2 linked regions of the Homo sapiens genome follow. The protein of the gene in region 1 purifies or fractionates together with the protein of each later gene. This does not show direct contact. Each region holds a gene or a part of one and is shown in the gene's direction. Other genes may lie near its edges.

The links.
Region 2: the proteins of GOLIM4 (region 1) and PACC1 purify together in Homo sapiens (co-immunoprecipitation; one large-scale study listed by IntAct). This does not show direct contact.

What each region holds. Positions count from the first base shown.
Region 1 is NC_000003.12:168,085,925-168,089,424, reverse strand, and holds part of GOLIM4 (Golgi integral membrane protein 4), read left to right. Parts: intron 1-3,500. UniProt on the Homo sapiens protein: Plays a role in endosome to Golgi protein trafficking; mediates protein transport along the late endosome-bypass pathway from the early endosome to the Golgi.
Region 2 is NC_000001.11:212,380,387-212,383,886, reverse strand, and holds part of PACC1 (proton-activated chloride channel), read left to right. Parts: intron 1-3,500. UniProt on the Homo sapiens protein: Chloride channel gated by pH that facilitates the entry of chloride ions into cells upon exposure to extracellular acidic pH. Involved in acidosis-induced cell death by mediating chloride influx and subsequent cell swelling.

The sequences.
Region 1 (3,500 bases):
GCATTTTGGATGATTGAGGAAACATATACAACAGAGTGGTTCATAGACCTCAGCAATTTAGACCACAAGTGTGGGCAATGTGTGGTAGGTGTACTAATTTTCAAGTGCAGCGTTAGAACTTAAAACATGAACTAGACATTGTCTATTAAATGGACATCTTCACTGAAGTACAACTTAGAGTTAAATGAAGAGACTATCATTTTTGCTTGATCCTGTACCATTTAGAATATGGAACAAAAATACTCTTAAGTTCAGTAATTTTTATTTGTGTGTAAATTCCTTCCCTGAATAAAAGATAAAAGCTTCCAAATACCTTTTGAAGCTCTAATTCAGTGAAGCATTCTTTTGAATATGTATGATTTGCACATAATCTATAATCGATTTCACACGTTGTGCCCACCTTAGTCATCCCTCTAATATGTAACATGCCAACTCTAATGAGAGTACTGGTGTCCAGGTAAATAATTGGTTGCTGTGTAAGAGAATTACTTGTTATCTGGGAGCCTTTAGTTTAAGTTCCAAGTAGATTGGAAGCCTTGCCTTGATTTCTTTTTATTCTTTCTTTTCTTAGGAAGGACAGTTTCCAAAAGGGCTGGGGTACAATACCACATTACTGTGGCTGAAGGAATAAGTGAATTGGAGTTGGGGAAATGAATACTGACTAAATATGGTGTGAATCAAAAAGCAAAGGATTGGAGAGAAACCAGAAGAGGGCAGGGAAAGAAAAGGGGACACATATCACCTGGTGACTTTTCAAAGTACTGAGGAAGAGTTTTGTTCACATCTTTATGTCCTAAAAGAAAAGCAGCAGGAAATGGTGACTGGAGAGCTGGTTGGGGCATCAGATGTGGTTTCAGTGCAACTCAGGCATTTACCAGCAGGGTGACCTTGAGCAGGCAAATAACCTCTCTGAACTTCAGCCTCTTCGTGTTTTAATTTGGGTTAGCAATGTCTAACTTGCAAACTTGTATGGATTAGAAATAGTGCATCTGAAGTGACGAGTATGAGTCCTGGAGAATATTACTACTACCATTTATTAGGTGACCAGAACTACTGTTGTTGAATTAACATTGGGCTTCTTTTTATTTTGCCCAGCCTTTACTACATCTAGTAGGTAAGAGTGTTATTAGTGCTGGCCTAAAAGTGGCTCCTTTCACTATGTGCCCTACTTGGCTGAAACTTTTTGATTAAGATATTCTCACTCTGTCTTTTCTACCCTTTTGAGCCGTTCTTGGGGTGGAAAAAACCTGAAAATGCTTTACATGATAGCAACTAAGAGTTGTTGTTTTTCATTTTGACAGCCAATGGTTCTTCTTTTATCATTAAGGACAAAGTGGTTTTGCTACTTTTGCCAGTAGATGGTTTATGGGTTTTATAGCTTTATTTTGAAGTGAAAGTTATATATCATATAGCTTTATTATAAAAGAAAAATGATAAACTATATTTTCTTTTTAGCCAGTGTTCTTTGGAGTGAATTTTAGTAGAATTTTGAAAACTTATTTGAGAAAATTAAATTATTTTTAATCCATAACATTTATTGAGTACCTACCATGTTCGGGTTCAATGCTAAGCTTATTACATGCATTATGTCATTTAACTGTGACACTAGCACTTTAATCTGAATGAGCAATCTGAGGCTTAGAGAGGTTAATTAACTTGCCAGTGTCAAGATCTAGCCTGATGAAACTAAGCTTAGAAACCTAATGTAACTTTTTCCATAGTGCATCATTGCCCTCAAAATTATTTTAGTGTCTCTCATGACAGTATTAATGGTTTTAAGAAAGTAGGTTAGGTGGGTCATATGGGGATTCATGATAAAATTTAGAATCAGAAATAACGGGTGTACTATTTGATGCAGCATTTCCAGGGTACAAGAAATTTGCTGCTGGTATGAAAGATGATTTTGGTTGATACTAGAGTTGATTTTATGTGGCATGTAGATGTTGCCTGAAATGACAGTGAATCATATAATGAAAAACTTATTTCCTTTCAATGCTTTCCTGACAAGTAATGGAGAAATTCTCAGTCTGATGCTAGAATCTCTCTCCTAGAGAGTTGCTTCTCTGTTTTTCCAAAGAGAATAGACGTTAGGCAGCCAACAACTTGATAGCTAGAATTTGATAATTGTTTTGTTGTATTATTGTATTTAATTTTAAAATTAAATCTATTACCAATCATTAATGCTATGTAAATCAGATTTTTCATTTATAAAGTAGTGGTGTAAAAGTTTCCTGTTTAAAGTTTATTTTAAGGAAAAATAAACTTATTTAAGTGATTATTTGGTGGATTCAAAAAAACTGTACAGGTTTTGCATGAGTGTAGTAAGAACTCGCCTGAGGGGTGCCTGCATGTCTGAAGTTTAGGAATGCATTGACTGATCAAGTTGGATACAGACACTGAATTTTACAGTTAGTTAACTGAATTCTAAGGTGGATAAGTCACTTACCAGGTAGCTTAAGCTAAGCTGAGAGCCCACATACTCTGACTCTCAGTACAAGATAATACCCCTTCACTGCTCTGTGCTGTCTCTGTAGACTAGGACCCTCTTCTCTGTGAGAAGAAATGGGCATTGCTATTTTTAAACAGTGCTGTGTATTTCTGAATGGTATATTTGTGTTCTTTGTTTTTATTGGCCCATGAGTGCATATGCAGAAGACATGTCAGTCATTGTCCTTCACTGATAAGCTTTACTAAATAGGCTCATAGCCCGGAGGGACATGGGCATGAAATAAATTGCTCTCTATAGCCGTATGACATTTTAAAAAATACTGCTTTAACTATTTTTCATACATAAAATGTCACAATATGATAGTGAATAGAAAATTAAGATGTGCTGTCATTCTGAAGGATAGGCATTATAGAACATTGAAATGATATTATTTGCTTTTCTTTGGGAGTGCATGAAGTTAAAAAAATTATAATCATTTTAGGAGAGTCAGACATTTCATTTTCCAGTTCACATCTCATTTAAAATGCCTCCTTTAATTGGAATCTTTGTTACAAACAGAAAAAATAATCTGCAAATCAAGATATTTAGGACAGCTTTGACATTGCTTATGTGTTCTCTTGATAATAGCTATGATGCTGTCAAATAAATATTATAAACAGATTAAAATTTGGCAGTTGATAATTGATTAATTTGGTTTAGAGAAGTTTATCAAGTTTTATATTAGTGAGATTTATTAATAAATAATATTAATATTAGAAATCTATGATGCTTGCCCTTCTGCATTAGTAGCTCAATCTTTTAACAGACAGAAAATGTTTTAAATTATTTTATATTTTATTTAGAGGTTTGGATGCTATAAAACAAGTTAAATTGTATTGATGTCAAACATCACTTTTATTAAAATATGAAAAATAATTTTTTTTACTGTATAGGCGGTCATCACCTCAAAATCTAGATGCCATCCAAATTTGATCCAGGTGTGGGTGAGGCCCCTTAGGTATCCATACAATCTTTAACTATAATTCTTCAAGTATGCTTCCTCTTTATCTGT
Region 2 (3,500 bases), on another chromosome or scaffold:
CTACAGAAGCGAAGGGAAGATGATTCTTTGTGTAGGCATAGGAAACAGAGCAGACTTCTACAATGGAAAAGGAGAGAGAACTAAAGGAAAGGACTCTTCCCAGAGTAAAACACACTGGAAAACTCAGTGTGCTTCCACAGAGCATACTTAGCTTTCCCATGCAAGGGAGAGGCCTATTAGAGAAACAGAAATTTACTACTTTGGAAGAAACCAAAACCCAGACCTATACTAGTCAACCTAATCCTTCATTCATAAATAAGAATGGAGAATTAATGGTCACCAGACATTTGCATGAAACCAATGACAGAAAAGGACCAAGATGAACAAATAGAATGGACTCTAGAATAGGGAAGTAGAAGCTAATTAAAACAAAAAGGAAAGCAACTTTTAAACAATTCCAATGTGGAGTTATATGTATAATAGAAGCTCTTTGTCTGGATTCCCAGCTCCCTTCATCTCTCTGTAAAACACGCTAATGAAAACTCGTGGCTGCTTCCGTCCCACTAGGTGCCTATTCTCTGGATGCCCTCCTCTCCTCCCCCAGTTGAAGTGTATGCTTAGGAGGAGTCAGTGAGGGTCATTTCCAAACCTGTGTAGGCCAGTTGCACTTGTTACAATAGTTACATAATTCGACTAAAGAGTGTAAAAACCCTTGAAATAAGGGCACAAAGAGAGAGTTGTTTTTATGGAAATGAAGTTGAATGCAGCTACTGCCCCCAAGTCTGAGTGTTGGTTCATCTCCTCCATCAATTTCTTGAAGTCCACAAGCTATAAACTAACAGAGAAGTTATCTCCTCCCTATCCACCAAGTTTCCTACCCAAACCAGCATATAGCAGTGGAGGAAGAATATGATGAGAGCAGTAGAGCTCCCATTTGGAAAAGGAAGAAGGGGAAGGGCCCGCAGCTCTGCTCTGCAGCAGTGGTGGAACCCTGCAGGGTGGGACCGGTGAGACGCCTTCTTGGCATGAAGTAAGCTCCTTGGTTTGAACCTGTTGCTGCCCTCAGAAAGAGACTCCTGTGTGCTCTGGCCTCGTCCCCTGGGAGCTTCTGCCTTGGTGGTAATGCTCTGTGGCCATATCTGAAGTGGACATTAGAAAATACGCCCTCCCTGGTGGCTGCACAGCTTGTGCCACTCACTTCCTGCTTGTGTGAGCAGCTTTAGGGCTAAACAATTGCAAACTTGGAGGGCGGCTTCTTACCTGCCTCCTGCCACTGCCTATGTTTGCAGTGAGATTTCAGAAATGTGTAGGCTTCTGGCTGTTCGCATCTAATCAAGTTCATGTGAAAGTGACCCCAGTCGAGGGTCTCATCCTGTTGTATTTGTAAAATCTTCGGAATTTTGCTGATTTTCTGGTGCTTTCTTTCATGCTCTCAATTTAATGGTAGTTATTTTTTACCAAATGCTCTGCTCTGGCACAATAAGGTTTGCCACCTTTCCAGCCTGCGGGATCCTTATCTATTTCCTTACTGCCCGCCATTTTCCCACTGCCCAAATGTTTGGCTGTTCCCTCATTTTGATTTTTTTTGCAACCATAAAACACTCCAGCCGGGCGTGGTGGCTCATGCCTGTAATCCAGCACTTTGGGAGGCCGAGGCAGGTGGATCACGAGGTCAGGAGATCGAGACCATCCTGGCTAACATGGTGAAACCCCGTCTCTACTAAAAATAAAAATAAAAAAATCAGGCGTGTGTAGTGGCACGTGCCTGTAGTCCCAGCTACTTGGGAGGGCAAGACAGGAGAATCGCCTGAACCCGGGAGGCGGAGCTTGCAGTGAGCCGAGATCACGCCAGTGCACTCCAGCTTGGGCAACAGAGCGAGACACCGTCTCAAAAAAAAAAAACAAGAACACTCCAGTGTCAGCTAACAAATTGTGTATTAGTCAGAGTATAGGCTAAGCTACCAAATAAAAACAAAACCTGCAAATACAATGGCTGAGATGAGGGAGAAGCCTCCTTCTCTCTCTGAGAACAGTCCTGGCATGCAGGCCGTGTGGCGTAGTGGGCAGTACTGCCTCATAGGATAGTCCAGCCATGACTTTTGTCTTGTCACTGTGCTGTCCCCTGGGCATTGTTCTGGTCCATGTGGGCAGTGTGTGTGTGTGTGTGTGTGTGTGTCACTGTGCTGTCCCCTGGGCATTGTTCTGGTCCATGTGGGCTGTGTGTGTGTGTGTGTGTGTGTGTGTGTGTGTGCAGTGTGTGTGTGTGTGTCTGTGCACATGCCCAGGCCTGGGAAGGTGGAGGGCAAGCAGTTCCCTTTTCAGGAAATGGGGTGGAGTTGAATGAGTCCCCTTTTCTTTCGCACATTAGGAACTTTATCACGTGGCTACATTTGAGGGCAGAGATGAGGCTCCAGCAGGGGGAGTGGATTCTGCTGAAATCTGGGTTGGGAAAGCCATTCTAGTACTAAAGGAAGAAATGGATAATAGAAACCAGGGACAGTGCTTTCTGTTGCACACTTAAAACAAAATGGTACAGAAAGGTTGAAAAATAAATAGATGGACAAAGCTGTCTTGAGAAGATGCAACGAAAACCAGAAGTGACAATATTAATAGTGTGGAATTCCACGTGCAAAAGTTTGCAAGAAGGATGTTTAATATTGATAAGAGGTTCAACTCCATACTCTCCACTAAGACGACTGAACAGTTCCAAAACTTTATGTACAAAACAGCATGACATTTATATATTTTAAGCAAAACCCGTTAGAAGTAAAAAATACCATCACTTTAGAGCACGATTTAAACACCCCTCTCAGAAATTCACAGATCAAATAGACAAAAACTAGAAAGGATAAGAATTGAATAGTGCAGTTAATAAATTTAGAGTATGTATGTGTGTGTATACATGTGGGGGCACAAAACTTTGTAACTGACAGTGTACTCACTCTTTTTCAAATCTCTGTAGAGCATTTATTTATAAAAGTTGATGTAAAAGACATTTTTTTCTAAAATTAATCTATAAATTCAGTTTCTATCACAGTTAAAAGTCCCAGTGAATTTTTTTGTGGAACTAAGCAAGCTAGTCTTAAAGCATACTTAGAACACGTTCAAAAATAACCAAGACAAGTTTGGGGATGGGGAAGAGTAGTAGGGAGAGCACCTTCCCAGATCTCAGAACAGTGGAAAAACCACAGGAATCAAAGTGGCACAGTACTGGACAGAGACAGACAAATGTGTGGGCTCTGCTAGGGCCAGAAGCAGACATAGATATTGGTTCTGCATGGAATTTAGTATAGGATAAAGGAGGGAGGGGAAGAGGCTTCAAAACCTGTCTCTATGCATTGTTTGGGAAGTAGGAGTTAGAGCCCTATTTCACACTATATACAGAGCTTAAAGCCAGGTATATAAAGTATCTAAATGTAAAAAAGATTAAAAAGTGCTATAAAGAAATAGAGGAGAATATTGATATAATTTTGGCTTTCCTCAGCAAGCAAAACCCAAAGCCGTAAAGAAAAGGATTTAAGGTTTTACTACGTTAAATTTAAAGTTTCCATAGGACAAAT